2 linked regions of the Homo sapiens genome follow. The protein of the gene in region 2 purifies or fractionates together with the protein of the main gene of each other region. This does not show direct contact. Each region holds a gene or a part of one and is shown on either strand. Other genes may lie near its edges.

The links. Proteins that work in one complex are often made in the same cells at the same time.
Region 1: the proteins of KCNMB3 (region 2) and ATP11C purify together in Homo sapiens (affinity purification with mass spectrometry; one large-scale study listed by BioGRID and IntAct). This does not show direct contact.

The regions. Positions count from the first base shown.
Region 1 is NC_000023.11:139,797,007-139,800,659, forward strand, and holds part of ATP11C (phospholipid-transporting ATPase IG), read right to left. Parts: intron 3,105-3,653; coding exon 3,054-3,104; intron 1,738-3,053; coding exon 1,673-1,737; intron 1,349-1,672; coding exon 1,267-1,348; intron 321-1,266; coding exon 170-320; intron 1-169. UniProt on the Homo sapiens protein: Catalytic component of a P4-ATPase flippase complex which catalyzes the hydrolysis of ATP coupled to the transport of aminophospholipids, phosphatidylserines (PS) and phosphatidylethanolamines (PE), from the outer to the inner leaflet of the plasma membrane.
Region 2 is NC_000003.12:179,245,188-179,248,262, reverse strand, and holds part of KCNMB3 (calcium-activated potassium channel subunit beta-3), read left to right. Parts: intron 1-3,075. UniProt on the Homo sapiens protein: Regulatory subunit of the calcium activated potassium KCNMA1 (maxiK) channel. Modulates the calcium sensitivity and gating kinetics of KCNMA1, thereby contributing to KCNMA1 channel diversity.

The DNA.
Region 1 (3,653 bases), on a different chromosome or scaffold from region 2:
TTCTTTCTTTTACAATAAATCTTCTTAAATATTTATTGGCTTAGAGCCACCATGTAATCGAGAGAAAATTCAGAAGCTAACAAAAGGTGCCGTTTCCCTGAGCAGCATTTCAGTGAAGGTTGGCTCAGTCACAAAAAATAGTTTCAATTTTCAGCAGAAAACAAATTACCTTCAAGGTCTCTCGCTCTTTCTGAGTCTTTTGGTTATACCAAGGTTCATCATTGTATGGGGTACTTTGCCAAACATACTTTAGAGTAGTGCATACTGCAGCTTTGGTCAGTAAGATAAATAAATATACAATCAGGAAAGCATTAATAGATCTGAAAAATAAGATAGCATGGATTTTAAAACCAAAGACATCAGTCAGATATGAATTAAACTACTGAGTCATCTAAAGCTTTTTCTGTGTACGACGCGTAACTACAGCACAAGCCTTTGTGTATTAACCTCAGTTATCATAGCTGCAGCATTACTTTCAAGTGGCAAAATGGAAAAGCTGGCCATGAACTGTTTATTGACCACCAATGCTCCCCCAAGTGCAATGGCTGACTAGCTGAACACACCTTATTAAGGTTCCTGTAAAGTGACAGGAGAGGTACACACATGCACACATACACACACCATTACTTACTCAACCCTTATAGAAAGAGTATCTTGTCTCCATTTCCCTGAATCCTAAATGTTTGGGGTAGAGGGCACGGTAGCAATGTGAAATCCTCAAGCTCGGTGTAGGTTCTTTCAGTTTAAAAGTGGAGCTATGGAAAGGGTGCCAGTGATATACTGGTTATCCATGCCAAATACAGGGTGAGGTCTATAGCAGTGGCAACTGGCTTGAGGATCTACGAGGCACTGCTTCAATAGGTGCCAGGAGACTATTATCTATATTATAGAACCAACTTGCATATAGCAACTAAAGGACTCCAAACCATTAACTCCACTAGCAAAAAGGAATGAATTTACAGTTCAAGTAAACTCTGCCCTTTAATAGCTATGTGAGCTTAGGTAAGTCACATACCATCTCCAAGACCATTTCCTCATCTGTAAAGTGGAGAGGTTAACATGAATTACTTCACAGTGTTCTTCAGAGGACTAAACCAAATCAGACATACAAATCATTGAGCACAGTTTCTGGTACATAAACAAGTGCTTAAAATTGTAGTTGCTATTATAATTGATGTTGTTTTTTGTTATGCTTGTTACTTGGAATTACCAAGAAAGTAACTATTTTAATCAATAATGACTAAATAAATTGTGGCGCATACTAACTTTTCAACAGCAGAACGTTTCTGAGATTTCCCTTGGTAGTTCAAAGCCATTTTGGTTTCCATTCCAGTGTAAACAGCAACTCCTAAGAAATTACAGAATATAATAAAAACTAAGAACTTGTCAACCAACTCCTCACCCAGCTGGCTCTATGAATTTTTAAGTCTATAAAAGTGGGAAATCTAGGCCCTCTTCCACTCACCAGTTGTATATCATTTATAGGATAATTTTAATTATATATAGTATTTGTCATATTTCGTCTTAGTTTACCACGTTATAAATTCCCAACACCTAAATGTAGGTTTAAATTAAATGGCAAACCTGCCATGTTTACTTTTTAATATGCACTATTTATTCACAGCCTTTACAAAGCATATTTTTTGATAGGTGTATCTTAAAAATTGTTCACCATATATCTTCTCGGTATTTTTTAGCGTAGCTCCTTTCAGCAAGAGATTTTCAGGTCCCAAAGACCTAAATAAAAAATGAACACAGCTTATCCAAACAAGCCAATAGCATCAACAACTCTGGGGACAGATTTTGCCCTGACACACACCTATCTCCAAGGGGTTCAGAATGTTATCTGTCTACTTATACCATATGCTTACTCCCCAGGACAAGCTGAAAGGTCCTTCACTCTGAAGTTACTTGAGGGTACAGCACAGATGGAAGCACAGTACGGGAGTAGCCAGCAACACACATAGGCAAAAAAAATACATGGGGGGGGATAAAAGGATTATGAATCATGGATAGCAAGACGAGAACAGAACAGAGCAGCAGATCGCAAGACACAAAAGCAGACAGCCATCAATAAAAGACAGGGAATGCAAACGTCAAGGTGGGAAAAATATACTGACATATTTGGAGAGAATAAACCCTCCTTTTGGGGGATCACTGGGGACCCTGTATTTCTTTAACTTTTTGAGTGTGGCTGTAAAGGCCAAGTGGAAAAGTTGCGGTAATTAATATGATGATAGAAGAGGAAAGAAAGCATCCCTTTTTGTATGAACTGCTTGATAAATTGTATGAAGGCTGATACATACAATTCGTATACATAAAACAATTCGTTTTAATGAAGCCTTTCATTTTACGTAAGTCCAGGTAGTTCTTCCAGCATTTTACCCACTGCTTACTTTCTCAATTACTCTCCCACTGTTCTCCAGTTATAATTCCAATGTTGTCAGCCACTTCACAACCGAGGATAATAAATAACATGGCTAGAACAGGTTTGGGAATATAATCCAAAATGTCTGGAGCTCTGCTATTTTGGAAACCATAAGCATTACTTCTAACAGCCCCCTCCCCACAACACAGAGACCCTATCACCACAACTCTACCAATCACAAGGTTAGTTGCTTATTCACCTTTATATTCCTTTTTTTTTTTTTTTTTTTTTTTTTGAGATGGAGTCTTGCTCTTGTTGCCCAGGGTACAGTGCAATGGCTCAATCTTGGCTCACTGCGACCTTCGCCTCCCGGGTTCAAGAGATTCTCCTGCCTCAGCCTCCTGAGTAGTTGGGATTACAGATGTGTGCCACCACGCCCAGCTAAATTTGTATTTTTAATAGAGATTGGGTTTCACCCCGTTGGCCAGGCTGGCTTCAAACTCCTGACCTCAGGTGATCCACCCACCTCAGCCTCCCAAAGTGCTGGGATTACAGGCGTGAGCTACCGCACCCGGCCTATATTCCTTTCTATAATAGAAAGGTATTTGGCTATTTTAGTTGATTTAACAGAAAAATAGACCCCCCCCCCCAACCAAAGGACAAATTAAAGAAACAGCAAACTTACCTGGCAACAGCCTCAAGACTATTACTGTAGATATTGATTCGCCCAACAAATCTGTAAAAAGAACAAAATTGCAAATGTGTTTTCTACATCCAGGTGAAATCCATGTACCAGAAATATGAGAATGAATGAAAATACAAATAATAAAACAGAGATAGATAAAACTGTGAATGAACTACAAAAGCCTATTATATTTCTGGGGGAAAAAAAGTTATGTTGAATTGATAAGGTGTATAACATTTTCATATAATTTTTAAATAACATGATGGGATTATAGGAGCAGAAACAAAGGTTCTCAATTGATTTTCAAGTTCTGTTTAACATCATGCATGCACACAACACCTCTCTCTTTTATAAGTTTATATAAATAACGTAACTTCTATCTTGGATCATGTGAAGAAAGGTTTCTGGTGCTAAAATACAATTTTCAAAACCGCTAGTTCAGTAGTTCTTACACTTGAGTGTGCATCAGAATCACTGGAGCGCTAATTAAACCACAGATTTCTAGGTCCCATCCCTGAGCTTCTGATTCAGGTTCCCCAGTAATGCTGCTGCTGCTGGTCCTGAAACCACTCTTTAAACCATAGTACTAGTCTTAGACAG
Region 2 (3,075 bases):
ATGATGGAAGTGTTATTTTAGTTTTCATTTTATAAATGAGAAAGCTGAGGCTCAGAAAGGCCAAGTAACTTGCCCAAGTTCACATAGCCGGTAAATAATATGCCTGTCATTCTGACGTAAGACTTGCTTCTTAATACCTAAATGATGTTTGCTGAAATGAGGGGAATGGGGGTTCTGATTAGGGAAGGGGAGGGGCTATTTAATTTTGTAGGATGGCCCACACAACATGTGGTACTCTGGGGCCAGGTCAGTTCAGGGTAAAAGGAAGGCAAGGGGTGCTTTTTGGACATTGCTTTATTTTTGGACAGCCCTTTTTTTTTTGGACAGCCAAAGAGCAACAGGAGGCCCAGGGGGAGTGGAAGAGGAAGGCCTAGGAGTTCAGTGAGGGAAAGGGGTCATAAAAAAGGAAGAGAGTGGCCTACTTCTGTTATTTATGATTCATCTCCTGCCATTCCTAGGTTACCATTGTTAGGGGAAAGATGTAGAAGTCACCATTTACTATAGCACACAGTGCCACTGTTGGAAGAATTCCAGAAGAAGCTTCTCTCTGGTATTAGCACCAGGAGAAGCTGTGCTGCTCCTGATCAACCAGCTTACTTTCATTTAATGGACGCCAGGAGTCTTGTATCTGGTTGTGTTTCCTTCATTGCTTTGGCTGCTAGGAAACCCAGAGGCAACTTTGTAGCTCGGTTCTCATAACTACAAGGGATCTTATGGTCTGCAGATTACATGTTTGTACCTCACTTTTTTTTAAACTTTTTTTTTTAAGAAGTGGGATCTCACTATGTTGTCCAGGCTAGTCTCAAACTCCTAGGCTCAAGCGATTCTCTTGTCTTGGCTATACCTCACTTCTGACTTCATTCTGTCTTTTTTTCCTCTTTTTCATTTACTCCTTTTCCTCTCATCATATATATATATATATGCATTACATGTCTATGTAATTTGATTGAATGTTTGAATGTATGGGAATGTTGAGTAAATGTCCGTGTGTGTGCACAGGCAGATCATTTTTAAAAATGTGACATATTTGGGAGATGGCTTGAGGGTACCTTCTGCAAGCTGGTACCAAACTGTTGCTCATAATTAAGTTTTACTTTTCTAAGCATTCCTGGAAATTATTTGGTTAAATTAATTAAGTGAATGCCTAAGAGTGGTGAGTTCTCATCTCTCTCTTGCCTTACATCTTGTGCCATCTCAGCGAGTAGTTTTGCTCCATAAAGGGTGGTAGTTAAGAAGCCCTGCGTAGTTCATACCTATCCCCACTCCCTCAACCTCTCATCCCTCAATCAGATGATGGATTTTGTCACAGCTGTAGCCAAATACACACCCGATGCTATTGAAGGAACATGCTTATTTTTTAGCCCTAAATACATCCCTGGTTCCACCTGAAAGGCTCTGACCGGGGCCTTGTGCATGGGACAGAATGTCCCACTCTATTTTGAAGCTTTCTAAAATCTTTAAGGAAAATTCAAATCATACTCAGTTCAGTACTCGGTCAAGATTTAGAGAGCTTAAGTTCTAACAGATAAAAAAGTAACTCTAAATTATTATTTCAAGATGCCTAGTTAAAATAAACATATAAATTAATTTAGTGAAAAAGCAGGCCAGTGCTAAGTCTATGAAATAATCTTATTTTCCGCTTTTGTATTTTCACTTGCCCAGTATTTTTTCTTTGGCCATATCTAGTGATTTTTATACCCCAGACCTTGAGGCCATGTTAAACTGCACAGTGTGTCTCAAGTTTGTTATATTAATAAGGGAAAATGATTATTTTGGTCAAAGAGATTAGTGAGAGTGCATTATGAACCTAGCTAAATATTGCTTTTCGAACATTCTTACTTTTTTTTTTTTGGGACAGAGTCGGCCTCTGTTGCCCTGGCTGGAGTGCAGTGGCACAATCTTGGCTCACTGCAACTTCTGCCTCCCGGGTTTAAGCAATTCTCCTGCCTCAGCCTCCTATATAGCTGGGATTACAGGTGCCGGCCACCATGCCCAGCTAATTTTTGTATTTTCAGTGAAGACGTGGTTTCGCCATGTTGGCCAGGCTGGTCTCAAACTCCTGGCCTCAAGTGATCTGCCCGCCTCGGCCTCCCAAAGTGCTGGGATTATAGGCATGAGCCACTGCGCCTGGCCCTGCTTTTCAAACATTCTGACTTTAGAGCTTGCTAATCTAACTTATTATGTTTAAGGAACCGGTAAGTAAACACAGGAGTCCACCTATATGTGAGTGTGAGGGTATATGAAGAGCTGGTCTCATATATTCAATCAAAGCGTTTCCTCTTCCCCTCGTTTACTTTGTCTTGGACTTGTTTTCAAATTATTTCATACATATACACATGTCCTTTCTCTTCAACATCACCACAAGGTCTTCATGGCAGGAATTTTGTCTGTCCCTTCTGGGATGTTTTGCATATGTATTACATGTGAAAATTCTCAAGAAATTTTCCAAGTAAAATTTAATTCAGACCAGGAGCCGTGGCTCACGCCTGTAATCCCAGCACTTTGGGAGGCCAAGGTGGGAGGATGACGAGGTCAGGAGTTCAAGGCCAGCCAGGCCAATGCGGTGAAACCCCATCTCTACTAAAAATACAAAAAATTAGCTGGGCGTGATGGTGCGCACCTGTAATCCCAGCTACTCAGGAGGCTGAGGCAGGCGAATCGCTTGAAACCAGAAGGCGGAGGTTGCAGTGAGCCGAGATTGCACCACTCCAGCCTGGGCAACAAGAGCGAAACTCCATCCCCCCCCCCAAAAAAATTAATTCAGTACAGCACTTATTAAACATCTACTCAGTGAGAAGCATTCTGTTTCATGCTTTGAGGAACATACGGATGAATTGGATATAGCTCTTGACCTCTAGGAACTTAATTGATAGCAAAAATATGGTAAGTATTCTACTGAGAGATTCCATGTATGATTTGCACTTGCCTCTTTGGAAGTAGTGGGTATGTGGAATTGTACCTTGTTGCCAGAAATTGTGTAGGCTATGTTGACCAACGGCCCTGTAGTTAGACTCCTTCCAAAGGCACATTTTCATCAGGACAAGCCAGTGCATCTTGAGATGATGAGCATGAGAG